Regions from separate parts of the Homo sapiens genome. Here regions 1 and 2 are each linked to region 3. Evidence: fine-mapped expression QTL. A gene starts in region 3. Each other region holds a variant in brackets. All regions are shown on one strand. Distances are from middle to middle.

The links. PIP is the estimated chance that this variant, and not a neighbour inherited with it, causes the effect.
Region 1: its variant is the best candidate, but not a certain one, in a credible set for the expression of FUT8 in fibroblasts (GTEx, PIP 0.54).
Region 2: its variant is the best candidate, but not a certain one, in a credible set for the expression of FUT8 in testis (GTEx, PIP 0.51).

The regions. Positions count from the first base shown.
Region 1 is chr14:65,240,776-65,246,002 of GRCh38, reverse strand. No RefSeq gene overlaps it. Among named protein-coding and RNA genes, the nearest start is that of LINC02324, 21 kb to the right of the region's middle. The variant A/C (reference allele first, on the strand shown) is at 2,141.
Region 2 is chr14:65,260,746-65,265,972 of GRCh38, reverse strand. No RefSeq gene overlaps it. Among named protein-coding and RNA genes, the nearest start is that of LINC02324, 41 kb to the right of the region's middle. The variant G/A (reference allele first, on the strand shown) is at 3,154.
Region 3 is chr14:65,410,179-65,415,405 of GRCh38, reverse strand. It overlaps FUT8 (fucosyltransferase 8), which reads right to left and starts at 2,676. Exons shown (of 11, transcript NM_001371533.1): 1 at 2,192-2,676. FUT8-AS1 (FUT8 antisense RNA 1) reads left to right here and starts at 2,789. Exons shown (of 1, transcript NR_024334.1): 1 at 2,789-4,814. RefSeq lists enhancers at 1,371-1,935, 3,178-3,497 and silencers at 1,858-2,047, 2,058-2,177, 2,478-2,637.

The sequences.
Region 1 (5,227 bases), 170 kb after region 3:
TCTTTCCATGGACAATGGAGAGATGATGAAGAGTTTCACAAGAGAGTCATAAATTAACAGCTGGGGAGAAAAGGTGAATGCTTGGGAGACTCGGTGATGGTGACTTAACTTCTCCCATCTGTGTACTTTGAGATGTGAACCGCATGTTTTTGAGCTCACTTCCTGCCCTGATTTTCTGTGATTCTTCCTTCCCAAAAGGGGGCACTGAGGCAGGAGCTACAATAGTCTTTCAAACTGTTAGGGCCAGGGCAGAGACTGCCAAATGCTTAGTCCTCGGTTTTGACCTAACCAGTGGGTCAGATTGCTAGGGATGGGGTGGGCATCAAATGTCTTATTGCCTGTGAAGTAGAGGTTTGGGGAAAGTAGAGAACAAGTACCTCCTGCTCTCCCATGCATAACCCATAGAGAAATAACAATTTCCCCGGAATTTCGAGTCCATACCTCCACCTCTCTGCTGGTGTGCCAAGCCTGTCCAGCTTCTTTCCTGTCACAAAAGAGAAGGGTCCCTCCACATTTTAGGGCTAACTCATCCACCACACATTTGATCTCATCTCCCTCTGGCTTCTCTGTTTCTTCTTCCTCCAACCATTTTTTCTTTTTTTTTCGAGATGGAGTTTCACTCTTGTTGCCCAGGCTGGAGTGCAATGATGTGATCTCGGCTCATTGAAACCTCCACCTCCCGAATTCAAGTGATTCTCCTGCTTCAGCCTCCCAAGTAGCAGGGATTACAGGCACCGGCCACCACGCCCAGCTAATTTTTGTATTTTTAGTAGAGATAGGGCTTCACCATGTTGGCCAGGCTGGTCTGGAACTCCTGACCTCGGGTGATCCACCCGCCTCAGCCTCCCAAAGTGGTGGGATTACAGGCGTGAGCCACTGTGCCCGGCCTCTTCCTCCAACATTTCAAACCCTCCCTCTCCTGCCCCATGTCCAAGCCTAGCTGCACTTCTTTTAAAAATCCTGAATTAAGCTCAGATGACCCTTAGCACTCCCTCTACTCCTGCTTTCCCCTTCCAGAATTCTCTCCAGTTATATATAACTGCTGACTTCACTCCTCACATATCTGCTCATTTCTCAGATCCTGACAGTAGAGGGTCCAACCTCTATCACTTTCCAGAAACTTCAGATATTATGAATAATCCCCAACTGACCAGCCCTATGCCTCATCAGTCCTCATGTTCTTCGCTCCATGATACTGGGCCTGTGTTGCCTTCCCTGTCTCTGGATGGACCCCTCTTTCCCATTGACTCCCGTTTCACTGCTCTGCTACTGCTTTTCCTTACTCCATAGCCATTCCCCATCATTGCTTGGTGGCCTCAAGGAAAGTCTGGAGGACACCAGATAGAAACACCCCAACTTCTCACCTGCAAACCTGGAAATTCATCGTAACCGGCATTTCATTTTTCTGGTTAAAATGGAACTTGTCTCTTTACTGACTTGAGCCCATTCCTCCATCTTGAAGGAAATCTCATCTCCTCCCATCTCCTCACCTCTCTCTAACAATTATCCTGTCATCTTGTTGAGTCTTTAATCTCCTCTCTGCTGTTCTTTCTCAAAATCATGAAAAAATCCATAAGTCTCCATCTCTTAAAAAAAATACTCTTGTTTTCACTGCCTTTTATACCTAATTCACAGTCAAACTTCCTGAAAGGGTCATGTATACTTCTTATCTCCCCTTACACCCTTCCTTGTCACTCCTCTGTCCTCTGAAAACAGTCTCCTCAAGATTACTAATGACCTCCGTGTTGTCCAAATCTCTTGGACTTTTGTTGCCCCTTTGAGTTACTCTCAACAGCTTTGACATTATTCACCACTTCCTGCCTCTCCTCGCCCAGCTCCTCCTCCTGCCCTGACTGCTTCCTCTCTGTGTCCCTGACATGCCCCTCTCTCTCCCTCTCTCTTTTCTCTCCCTCTCTCTCCTCCCTGTCTCTCTCTCTCCCTCCTTCTGTCTCTCTTTCTCCTGTGCAGCAGTGACACTCCCTGTGCTCCTTGGCTTTCTGGCTTGGGCCTTCTTCTTCCCTCACTTTCCCCGAGTGATCTCATCCACTCCTTCACTCCACAAATATTTACTGAGCACACACCACGAATCAGGCAAGGTTCTAAGCCCTGAGGTATCACAATGAAGAAGACAAAGTCCCGG[A/C]TGTTATAGAGTTCACATTTACCAAGGTGTCAATTCTGTCTGGATGCCCGTGACACCGAGCTGTCTCCAGCCCAGATCTTTCTCTCCTGTCTGCTTAACACCTCTACTTGGACATCCCACAAAAAACGGGACTTGTCCAGAGGTAAAGTTTTCATCCTTACTGCCTTCCGGACCAGCTTATCTTCCTATCTCGATTACCCAAACCAGGAGCTGCTCTTTGCATTCATTTGTCATCTTTGATTCTTCACTTTCATTCTCCCCTTCAATCCAGCCTGTAACGAAGTCCTGTCAATTCTACCTCCCAATCCTCCTAAATGCCTCTAGAATCCATCCACTGCTCTTTACGCCCAACACTATTACTCTGACTTAGAGCCATATCCCCTCTTCCCTGGTTCCCACCAGGTGACCCTCTGGTCTTATTCTCTCCCATGCCACACCCTTCAATACATTGTCCGCACTGCAGTCGGAGTCATTGTCTAATGTACCTACAGAACTGATCTCACGACCTCCCTGCTTAAAATTCTTCATTGCCTTTAAAATTAAAGCCAAACCTCTTATCATGGCCCCTGCCTACTTCTCAGTCCTCTCCCCCACCACCCACCTCACTCTCACACACTTTACTGTGTGTGTCTCCTGACACACACAGTAAACTTTTTTTTTCAGTGCCCTGGATGTGCCACATTCCCTCACAACTCCGAACCTTGAAAGTGCTGTTCCTTCAGCTTGGAAGTCTTCCTCACTCCTGACCCGCACCACCTCACCTGGCTAACTCCTATTTACATCAGGCTCAGCTCAGAGGTAACCTCTAGAGCACTTTCCATTAAGGCTGTCGTCTGTGGCAATTGCCCTCCTATGTACTTCCATGTCATCTTGTATTATCCACTCTATTATGATCATCTGATTTCACTGTTTATTTTCTGCGTTCCTCTTCCATGAGACTGTATGCCACAGGAAGGCAGGAACAAAGTCCACATCACTCATACTGTGTCATTGTGTTTCCAGTCTTCAGAAAATACCAATCAAGAAATAACTGTCAAAAATGAATAGTTTCTTGCCTCCCTCCTCCTGCCCTCTAAGTGCAGACATTGCTTAAGATTCATGTTTTCCAGCTTTGCTCGATTTCCTTCTTTATATTTCATGGATTCCTATTACTTCAGTGATTGGATATGTGTGAAGAAATCTCCAATCTACCCCCAAGCTAGATAGCTCTCAGCTCCCAGACTGCATTTCCAATCTCATGCTAGACATTCATGCTTGTAGGTTTTTCCATCATCTCAGATAAAAGATATAAAACATTAAAAGCATGCAAAGGATATATGTGTAAGGATGTGCAATGCAACATTGTCTATAATATAGAAAAATTGGAAACAATCCAAATGCCCATCAAAAGAGAATTGGGTAAATAAACTGTGTACCACTGTGCAGACTAGAAAGATTTATATATTGATGTGAAAAGATGTCCATGATATACCGTTCAGTAAAAAAGCAGCTTCATCTGTGTAAATACATACAGTGCTCTTTTGAATAATTTTCCCTTCCTTTGATCCCAAAGTCAATGATACTCATTTGTATGTTGAACAATGAATTTTATAATGCACACTTCAAATGAATGTATAAGGGAATTGAAAAAAGTACTAGGTATTATCTATTAAGAGACTCCTGTTAACCACACACACAAAAACAGGTTTCAGAACTATAGAGTTTAATTTTATTCAATCATTCAACATGCATTTATTAAGCACCTATTATGTGCCAGTTTCTGTTCCAGGTACTGGGGATATGCAGAGAGCAAGGCAAAGTCCTTGCTCTCACAGTTTTCTTTTTTTTTTTTTTTGAGACAGAGTTTCGCTCTTGTCGCCCAGGCTGGAGTGCAGTGACACGATCTCGGCTCACTGCAACTTCTGCCTCCCGGTTTTAAGCAATTCTCCTGCCTCAGCCTCCCGAGTAGCTGGGACTACAGGCGTGCACCACCATGCCCAGCTAATTTTTTGTATTTTTAGTAGAGACGGGGTTTCACCATGTTGGCCAAGCTGGTCACGAACTCCTGGCCCCAAGTGGTCCACCCGCCTCAGGCTCCCAAAGTGCTGGGATTACAGGCGTGAGCCACTGCACCCGGCTGCTCTCACAGTTTTCTAAATAGACAGTAAGCAAATAAATAGACAGAATTAAATGTCACGTAATGATACGTGGTATGAAGAAACTGAATTATGAGGTGTGCTATTCTGCTTAGGATGCTTAGAGAGGGGCTTTCCAAAATAGTGACAGTTGAGCAGAGACCTGAATAAAAGTGAGGGCGGGAATTACCTGAATATTTGGGGCAAGGATATTCTGACCGGAAGAACCAGCCATCACAGAGGCCTACAGTATTGCCGTGTTTAACTGGTTCTAAAACTGCAAGGCAGCCACAGCAGCTGGAGCAAAGTAGGGGGAGGAAAGAGTGGAGGGAGATGTGGCCGTGGTGTGGGCTCTGGGCTCTGGTGTCCATTCTAAGTGTGATGAAAAGTAAGTCTTCAGAGGTGTTTCTGTTACATGTTAGTGTCTCATTTTTAAAAGTCAGCATAAAATAATTCTGAGATGTGAAACTATAGGAGACTTTCATTTTCAAAACCAATGATGCTCTGATTATTTTTTTTTTTTTTTTTTGCCAAAGTAATACTCACCGTAAAACATTCAAACACATTCAAGCACAATCTTGTGTTTGAATGTTTTACGGTGAGTATTACTTTGGCAATCAGAAAAAAAAATGATTTTTTAAATGTGTGGGCTGGACACAGTGGCTCATGCTTGTAATCCCAGCACTTTGGGAGGCTGAGGTGGGCAGATCACTTGAGCCCAGGAGTTCGAGACCAGTCTGGGCAACATGGCAAAACCCTGTCTCTACTAAAAATACAAAAATTAGCTGGGTGTGGTGGCACACACCTGTAGTCCTAGCTACTCAGGAAGCTAAGGGAGGAGGATAGCTTGAGCCCAGGATAGTCCAGGCTGCAGTGAGCCATGATCACACCACTGCACCCCAGCCTGGGCAACAGAGCAAGACCCTGCCTCAAAAACAATAATAAAAATAATGGCCGGGCGCGGTGGCTCACG
Region 2 (5,227 bases), 150 kb after region 3:
GTATTATGTATGAAATATTTGTACTGGTTTGAAATAGTCCCTCTAAATCATCAAGGAAGAAATAAAATAATTCACAAAAATTGAAAAAAATTAAAAGAAAAATAAAATAGCTGCTGTATTCTGTTTTGGTTTGTTTGTTTTCCTAAGGCTTTATGCAGATTTCTGCAACCAAAAGTTGAGACAGGTTTGAAAACCTGTTTGTGAGGGTAAGATTTTTCTACTTGACCTCAAATCAGTCAGGGAAGATGGGTTCAGCAAATCAGGCAGTCACTCTGAGGTGTTAGGAGAGGTTTTTATTAGGGGAGGAAAACTACCTGCAAGACTTGGTTGGGAATCCACCATGTCTACAGGGCAAAAAGGCACAGTGGACGCAGCTCCGATGAGGACTACATATCAGGTAGGAGCAGAGAAAGAGTCTCCCGTGGCTGGGGGCCCAGAAAAGCCCCAGGTCAGGGTCTACAGGAGTCTGTCTCCCACCTGGGGTGCCATGATGTCAGCTCCCTCATATATGGAAGTAGATTAGGCTCTGGGAGGCCTAGAGTCACTTACCTCTGGATCTGAACTGTAAAAATTCAATTTCCTGAACAATAAATAAGAATAAAATAGGCCGGGCACGGTGGCTCACGCCTGTAATCCCAGCACTTTGGGAGGCCGAGGCGGGTGGATCACCTGAGGTCAGGAGTTCAAGGATAGCCTGGCCAACATGGTGAAACCCTGTCTCTACTAAAAATACAAAAAATTAGCTGGGCGTGGTGGCACGCCCCTGTAATCCCAGCTACTAGGGGGGCTGAGGCAGGATGATCGCTTGAACCTGGGAGGCAGAGGTTGCAGTGAGCCAAGATCGTGCCACTGCACTCCAGCCTGGGCAACAGAGCGAGACTCTGTCTCAAAAAAAAAAAAGAATAAAGTAAGATTAGACTAGATCAAACAAACAGGCCGGGTGTGGTTGCTCACACCTGTAATCCTAGCACTTTGGGAGGCCAAGGCAGGTGAATCACAAGGTCAGGAGTTCAAGACCAGCCTGGTCAATATGGTAAAACCCTGTCTCTACTAAAAATACAAAAATTAGCTGGGCGTGGTGGCAGGTGCCTATAATCCCAGCTACTTGGGAGGCTAAGGCAGGAGAATTGCTTGAACCTGGGGGTGGGGAGGCAGAGGTTGCAGTGAGTCAAGATCACGCCATTGCACTTCAGTCTGAGCAACAGAGTGAGACTCTGTCTCAAATAAATAAATAAATAAATAAATAAATAAATAAATAAATGACAATCACACATCAGGCTGGCCTAGCTCAGGGGCAGGGACAATGGGCAGAGCCTCACCTGCTCTCACCTTGCCTGTCCTTCCTCCTCCTCTAGCAGTAACCAAGGACTCTCGGTGGATGCCCTTGACTGAAACCCAGGGTGAAAATAACCAGATTTGATTATTTCTAAGGTAAATGATGTTCTGGGCAACAATGGGCTTTGGGGGAAGGGGTACTGATTTATAGTGTCTGCTGATTTCAGTGGTGTAAATACTACCACCATGGCTAAATTCGAACTTACCAACAACACATCACTGAATGCAGCATTGGCCATGCAATCGCATATCATATAGTAAAGTAATTATGAAGTAACAAGGGATTTTTTTTCTTTTTGTTTTTTGAGATGGAGTCTTGCTCTGTTGCCCAGGCTGGAGTGCAGTGGCACTAGCTCGACTCAACTGCAAACTCCACCTCCCAGGTTCAAGTGATTCTCCTGTAGAATTGTATCTTTATTCTCCTGCCTCAGCCTCCTGAGTAGCTGGGATTACAGGCACCCACCACCACACCCAGCTATGTCTGTATTTTTAGTAGAGGCAGGATTTTGCCATGTTGCCCAGGCTAGTCTCGAACCTCTGACCTCAAATGATCCACCTGCCTCAGCCTCCCAAAGTGCTGGGATTACAGGCATAAGCCACTGCGCTCTACTGAAATAATCAGTTTTGAATATTTATTACCTTTGTTTTAATACGGTTTATTTGATTGTAAGTTTATATAATTCAATTTTTTGAGAACGGCTGTGTTTAACAATCAGCTTACAAAATTCCTGAAAATTTAACAATTGGTTCTTGCAAACTGGTATCCAGGATACCACTCACTATCAAGGACCTTTTTAGCTCCAACCTTCTAAATGTTTATACTAAGGCATAAACCATTTGAAGCTGGGAAGGGGCAAGTGGGAATAATCCTAGGGATTTTGAGAGTGTGCTCAGGAGGAAAAAAACAAAACAAAACATGTTTTCAATGTCACATCCATCACAGAGAAGATAACTTGGCAAAAAACAGGTGTCCAGTCAGTGAATGATACAATGTCTCAGTGAGGCAATGACTCAACCCTCACTCAGTAGGCTCTGTACTTCAAGTTATTTTTTCAGTTAATACTAGCGAGGGTTTATACTCATCCAGCCACATTCTATCATCCAGCCTTCCAGTGGGCCAGGGAGCACCAACTGTGCTGATACCTGTGGCAAAAAGGTGCCAGCAATGCACTGTTAGTGTGTTGACTAACTTTACACAGGCTCCAACAAGGACTTCGTCCAATGACCCAAGCTGATTCCAGTGGATAACTCAGCCAGGTCAAGAGGCCCACGTGGGCCTCCAGGCCACATGATCACCCGCTATGGGTGGGTATGATCTTACTGTGTCTTATCACTCGCCCTGGCTACTATCTCCCTTCTGGTAGGATCAGTGTTTAATTCATATTTTTGTACTTCCATTCTTCCCGGAGTTTTTGAGAATAGTGTGCATGTTCAATAGCCAAGTAGTTAAGAGCATGGATTCTGAGCCAGACTCTCTGGGACCAAAAATTCTAGTTCTGTGACTTACTAGCTGTGTAATCTTGGGCAAGCTGCTTAACTTCTCTGGACCTCAATTTTATCCTCTATAAAATATGAATAATAACAGTACCTACTTCACAGCAATATTGGGAAGATTAAATGAGTTTTGTACATACCCAGTATACCCTGTACTTAGAACAATGCCTGGCACATAGAATATACTATTTAAATGTCAGCTGTTATTATTACATAATATATATATGTTCTATTGGCCAGGCACAGTGGCTCACACCTGTAATCCCAGCACTTTGGGAGGCCAAGGTGGGCAGATCACGAGGTCAGGAGATCAAGACCATCCTG[G/A]CTAACACAGTGGAACCCCGTCTCTACTAAAAGTACAAAAAATTAGCCAGGTGTGGTGGCGGGCACCTGTAGTCCCAGCTATTTGGCTGAGGCAGGAGAATGGCGTGAACCCGGGAGGCGGAGCTTGCAGTGAGCCGAGATCATGCTACTGCACTCCAGCCTGGGCAACAGAGCGAGACTCGTCTCAGAAAAAAAAAAATAATTATATATATTTATATATATATATATATTCTATTATTATTATGTAATAGATGAATGAATGCAGGTATCCAAAAACATGGGGAAAAAGACCCTGAATGGTTGTGTAAGTATTCTTCTGGAAAACAAGGCCAAGTATGGAATTATAATAATAAATACAATACAAAAATAGCAGTAACGTTGGCTGTGTCTCTGAAATGTAATTACTAAATTTTTAAAATGCACTTTACAAGCATTATTTTACTAACTCCTCATAAAAATCCTAATAGGAAGGAACTACCATTCTGTATATTACAAAATTAAGAAAAGTGAGGCTTGTGGAGGGTAACTGCTATAATCTGAAGGTTTGTGTCCTCCCAAAATTCACATGTTGAAATCTAATCCCAAAACGATGGTATTTAGAAGGGGGGCCGTTGGGAGGTAAGTAGGTCATGAGGGCAGAGCCCTTGGGAATGAGATTAGTGCTGTCATAAAGAGGCTCCAGGCTGGTCGCTGTAGCTCATCCCTGTAATCCCATTACTTTGAGAGACAGAGGCAAAAGGATCACTTGAGCCCAGGAGTTTGAGAACAGCCCAGGCAACATAAGGAGTCCCTATCTCTACACAAAATTTTAAAAAGTCAGCTGTGGTGGCATCTACTTGTGGTCCCAGCTATTTGTGAGGCTGAGGTGGGAGGATTGCTTGAGCCCAGGAGGTTGAAGCTGCAGTGAGCTATGATCATGCCACTGCACTCTAGGCTGGATGCCAGAGCAAGACCCTGTCTTAAACAAACAAACAAACAAACAAAAAAGGGACCCCAGAGAGATTCCCTCACTCCTTCCACAATGTGAGGACACAGTGAGAAGGCAGCTGTCTGTGAACCAGGAAGCAGGCCCTCATCAGACACCAAATCTGCTGGCACCTTGATCTTGAACTTCCCAGCCACCAGAACCATGAGAAATAAATCAGTGTTGTTTCTAAGCCACCCAGTCTACTTTCTCAACACCACAGTCAATGACTCAAATACATGTCCTATGACTCCAGCACTTGAGCTCTTAACTGCTAGCCTATACAGCTATATCCACAGCCCCAGCAGCCAGCTCCTGGCCTCTAGCCCACCTGTCATCTCTCCTCTCACTTATCCCTCCACGTCCATCCAAGACTTACCTCTTTTCTGAAGATTTCTCAGATTTCCCCTTGGTAGGAAGCTCCCAGCTCTTGGATATACTGTGTGCCCCTCTCTCCTGTCCGTGAGTATGTTACCTTGGACTCACTTTGTCTATGTCACACAGAGGTTCTTTGTTTCTCCCCTTGAGAAGGAAAGTTTTTTCCAAGTCAGAGGTGTTGTTTCTCTTTGGTTTCTATCTTTGCGGCTCCCAAACATCCTGGTGGTAGTGATCATTACCAGTTGCTGAGCACCAAATGCTTTACATGCATTGTTTTCCTTAATTCTTACAATAATCCTATTATCCTATTAGGTGGACACAATTTCTGTCTCCATTTTCCAGATGAGGAAACTGAGGCTAGAAGAGGTTAAATGACTTGGTACAGTTACTTGAGGATCAGAGCTAGGATTTAAACCTAGGTCTGTTTAATCTCAAGCTCACATTCTTAATCACATCTGTTTTTAATCATGTTTGGTTCTTAAATATACACTGGAGAGGGAATGAGTCTTAGCCTTGACCAAAGCTCCCAGAGCCATGAGGGCCTTGAAAAAAAAAAAAAAAAGTGAGAAAAAAGGATGTCTGGAGATTTTGCAAGATCTGGGTTAAATTCACAACCAGGCTAAGACACTACCCCCAAGCCCCATGACACTGTCAATCCCCGCATAAACCTGCCCTGTGTATTGTTCGGAGTTCTCCAGAGACTGTGCCTATGTGTCTAGTGCACTCAAGACT
Region 3 (5,227 bases):
TTTAGCTTTCCATTATTGCAGCGCATGAAAAGACTTTTTTAAACTAATTTGTAATACACAATATATTCACTCCACAAATAACTATGTACATATATATGCCCACATCAATTTCCTACTCTTTTAATTAAAAATTTATGTTTCTTTTGGTCATAAAAATCTGGTTTTGGGTGTTTTAAAAGTTCAAACAGCTATTAAGCTATACTTTGCTTTGGCACTAGCTCCCCCTCCAGACCAATGTACTAATATAACAGCATTTTTAAAAATAATAAGTTAACAGTTTTTTCCAATCCACTGGCAAATTTTAAGATTCACCACTTTTAAGGACACTCCAATTGCGTAAAAATAACTGGTAAGAATTTGCAACAAAACAATGCAGGATGTAATCAGAATTAGTTTTGTTTTGTTTTTTTCGATTCCATACATCTTAAACAGAACTGATTTGTAGGAAAACAACTTCAGGTGACTTTTTAAATTCAAAAATATCCTCAAAATATAACCTATATAAGGCCGTACTTTATGGAAATTATTTTGAATCACTATCCTATTACACAAGACACTCTTCAAGTTAACTCACAACTTGACCAAAGATACATTTTTGCATCTGTTTCTGCAATCTATGCAAGTTTCATTCCAGCTGTTCAGCTCTTGAATTCAAATAGAATTCTCAATTTATAAGGCAGCAAAAAGAAAATCCATGTCTTGGAACTACCTTTGTACGTGTCTTATAGCCTATTCATCTCTAACTCCCTGCATTTTTTACACACTAAACCTGTGAAATCACAATTACAAATGCTTGAATTCCCACCTTTTCAATACTACTGTAGTATTTACAAATCAAGTAATTAAGATTTTCTATACACATACCAGATTTCACAAGGACAGCAAGGTACAGGGCCTTATTATTTGGCATAGGGTTTTAAGATGTTTTTACAGTTATTTTAAAGAGCAGAGACTACAACTCCATTATTTCTCATATATCTGATATACTGTAGTGCTTAAATAATAATTTCTCTCCTAAAATACTTTCTATATGATGCACCTATTTAAAGAATTAGTCATAAAACATAGAATGTAAATTTAATCAAGAAAATAAACATGCACCTAACCGCCGGAATAACAAGAAAAAAAAAATCTATAATGAAACCTGCCTACAGTTTTCATAGAGGCAAGCCAGTTAAGTCAGTTACTTGAGATGCGTTTAACTCTAAACTGACACAAAACTTGTGTTGAATTTGTTCCGCAAAACCTTGAAATTTGGGGTTATGTACTACAGAATTTGGCTTTTCTGGGTCCACCTTCCTGAGTGGGTTTAAATAAACTGTGAATAATTAAAACATAGGAAGGAAAAAAACACCACCTGTCCGTGCCTTTAACCAAGGCCTCAATCTATATATTATATGGCAAAATGCTAAAATAAAAGCTCATCCGGGACAAACCCTAAGCATGACACTGCCACTTAAGAAATACACTGCGTCTCTGAAGATTGCAATCCCCACTGTGAAGAAAGAACAGGTGCTGCACCCGACAACCCACTCAATCCTGCAGGACAAACCTCCTAGAACTGATAAATATGGACTCATTTAACCTTCCCAAATAAGTTGATACTCAAAAGCCGCCAGCTCGTCATTTGCACATCAAAAGGGAGTACAGCTGCACTCAAGCCTTTAACTGCCCTGCATCAGTCCCTCGCGGATCTTTGTGAGGGTCCACTCCCTGCTTTCTAGCCCGAGCAGCACTCAGAAAGAGCCCATAACGCACGGGCATCTTCCTCCCCACAAACCGCGACTCCAGGGACCGAGCTGCTGACGAAGGGAAGGTAGGTGTGGAGGGGAAACGACGGACACCTCCCACCCCCGCCCCCAACCCTTCTCCTTCCCTAGGCTTTGGCCCCTGCCCTAGGCAAGGATGCGCGACGCCGAGGGCAGCAGCGGCGCAGCTCCGCGTCCCGGCTGGAGAGGCGGGCGCCCCTCACCCTCTGCCCGCGCCCCCGGGGCTGCGCCAAGGCATCCGCCAGAGCGTCCCGGGGGCTCCCTCCCCACTTTTCCGAGAGCCGCTGGTTAACCGGCAGCAGTTGCAGCAACAGGCCCGGGTGAACGAGCAGGGACAGCCGCGGAGCCTCCTCAGATCCCGCGCGCAGCCCAGCCCAAGACCCCGAGGCGCGCGGGGCCCGGCTCCCAAAACGCCCCCTTACCCCAGGCGGGAGCAGAGGCGGTCTCCGCCGCTCCCCGTCGCAGCTGCCAAAGCCACAGCCCTCAGCCGCAGCTGCCCCACGATGGGGGAGTGGGAAGGGTGGCTGAGTGGAGGATGCTACTCCCGACCGAACGGAGAGGAAGAAACGGAAACAGGAACCGCCGCCGCCGCTTAACGGAGCCTTCGGCGCCACTGACTGAGGCAGAGCGCGAGGCGGCGCGAGCCGGGCAGTCGCTGACAGCGCGAGACCGAGAGCGAGCTGGGTCCAGGGCGCGCGACCCTGAGCAGTGCCGGCCCCATTCCGCGGGGAGACGAAGGGACGGGTCGGCTGGGGCCAGGCGGCGGGGGTGGGATGGGGAGGGGGCCTGGAGAGGAGGGAACCGGCTGCTCGGGTCGGCCGGAGATAACGCGCGCACGCGCCGGAGCGGCTCTGACAACGAGCGCAGGCGGGGAAGCCTCGGCCAGCGCCGGCGTGCGCGCGCGAATGGGGGAGCGCGCCCCTCGGCGTTCCTGGCTTCTGGGAGAGGGCGCGCATGCGCCGGCCGCTGCCACCTACGGCGACCCTGGCATGTGCCAGGGATTCTCCCCGCCCCCTTCCTCGCTGCGCCGGTGGAGAGCGTAGCAGCAGCATCCACCGCCTAGCAGAGCCGCGGGCCACAGCGGGACGGCACAGTTCCAGCAGGGCAGCGGCTGCGCACGCCGGCTCCGGCTCGCACACAGGCGTAGGCCGCCCTCTACCGCCTGAAGGCCGGAGGCTGAGCGGGGCGCGAGCGGATCCTGGATCCCGGGAGGAGACTCGCCTCCAGAGAATGCTGTGCTCCCTACAGCGCCGGGAATGGACCGGCCCGTGCCAGCTCAGTCGGCGGCCCTAGGGGGCACCCGCACTAGAGGTTTTGAAGCTGGCTCCTTGCTACTTTTAGGGGTGCGCGCTGCTGCTGCTCAGCCCCTGCAGCCCGCATTTGGCCGCTTGACTGCTGCTTCCAGCGCGATCCTACAATGGCATCGCTCCCCCAGGAGACTCAGCGAAGCCCTACTTTATCTTGTAAGAGCTGTTTCCACATTCACTCGAAGAGAAAGACCCCCCCCACGAGGGCCTGAGTTCGATGCCCGGCCTCTCCCGACCCGCGGCTGCGACAGCCCCTCTGAGGCGGAAGTTTATTTAGTACGGGAAAGAGAACAGCACGGGGAGAGGGGAGAGGCTTTGCCCTAGGATGCGTCCTACCCGCTCGGACTCGGAAAATTCCCGGCGCCCGCGATGCAGAGCAGTGGACCGAAGGGCTGCCCCAGAGCAGCCCAGACCGCCAGCTGAGCGGGAGGACCGGAGCGCGCCGCCCCAGCACACAAAGTAGTCGCGGGACGAGGGGTGCCGCCGAGGCCAATCAGAGCTGCGCGCCGCGTGAGTGGAGTGCGAGCCGGCCAATCAGAGGGCCGGAAGATGAGCTTCCCGTTCCAAACTCTTCCCTGTAGCCTTGGGACCCAGATCCCAAGCCTGGGGCGCTTTACGGTGGGAGAGCGAAATGGTGCCCTTAAGACAAGAATCATTTCTCTAGGCTTGGGCATTTTAAAGTACATACCGGGGATACTTATCCCAAAGCAAGTAGCGGCGGCCTTTTAGATGTTAAATATTAAAAGATCACAGAAAGGAGATTTAAGAGGCAGTGGCCTGTCAAGGTTGCAATCTGCCTAATATTCATAAATTCACATATTTATTGAGACCTTCTTATGTACCAGGAACTCTATCACAGATACACAAATAAGGTACTGCTGATTCAAAAGAAAATCCCTTGTCCTCAAGCAGCTCAGGTTGTGAGGGAGGCTTTCCTAGACCTTGAGACTCGTATTTATTGTCAGCTCTTTAAACAAAAAGCACTCTATGAAGTGCTGTACTTTACAGTCGTTTTTATGATTATCTCCCTGTGAGAAAAGAAAATTGAAAGGAAAGTAGAGTGACTTGTCCAAGATCACACAGAAGATGTACTAGCAGAGCCAGAATTATGTTCTAGCTCAGTTTGGGTGTCATCATTCAATAAAATAATTCAATAACAATTTGTAAATGCATGGATGCTCTCTCCCATGAGATTTCTGTACTAAACGTATAAGCAGGACAAAATTCTGGTATAAAAGTGACACACTTTGGTTGTTGGAAATGAACACAAATTTTAGACTTATGTGGGATTAAAGGTAAAAATCTTACCAGTCATACTTTAGATAATTTTTAGAAGTCAGAGGTGGGGTGGATATTTACTTCTTAGTTTAAACACAGCATTTTAAAAATATTTTAACAAGCAAGCGTAACTTTTTTTTTTTAAGATAGAAGAAGCAGGAAGGATCACTTAAGCCCAAGAGTTCCAGGCTGCAGTGCCACATCGTGCCTGTCAGTAGCCACTTCAGCCTGGGCAACATAGCAAGACCCTCATGTCTAAAATTAAAAATAAAATTTAAAAAAAAGAACTACTTCTAGTTGGTTAATAATCATGATAGTTTACACTGTATAATACTTTGAGATACCCAAGTACAAAGCTTTACATTTGCCTAAAAATTCCATTTTTGTCTGGTGTTCCATTTTTACTTCCAAAATCCTAGGAATTAAAGCACTTATTTTCCCTACCTCCTTCCAACTGAAAAAAAAAAAAAAAAAAACCTGTCCTAGGAATGTTTTGCCCAGGATTTGGTGCATTTGTATAGAACAGTATAATATACGTTAAAATAACAAATAACTTTGGTATCTCTTGAATACACTCAGAAACTAATTCTTCAGTGGTTTTGAAGTCTGCTTTGTTGAATCAATGTGCTTCTCCACCTGTGATGGAACATTATTATCAAAACCCTTTCCAAGGCAGGCTCAGGATTTAGCTGCCATCCCAAAACTGGAGGTCTCTGTCAAACAACTGATATTTGAGAACAAGTCTTTACACATTAAGTTCCAAGCCAATCATGAATTTCCAGGAAATTCACTTATGAAAGGGAATTTTATACCCTGCCTCTTCTCAGTGTGGATAACAGTCCCAGCTTTTAAAAAATACATTTATTTTACTCT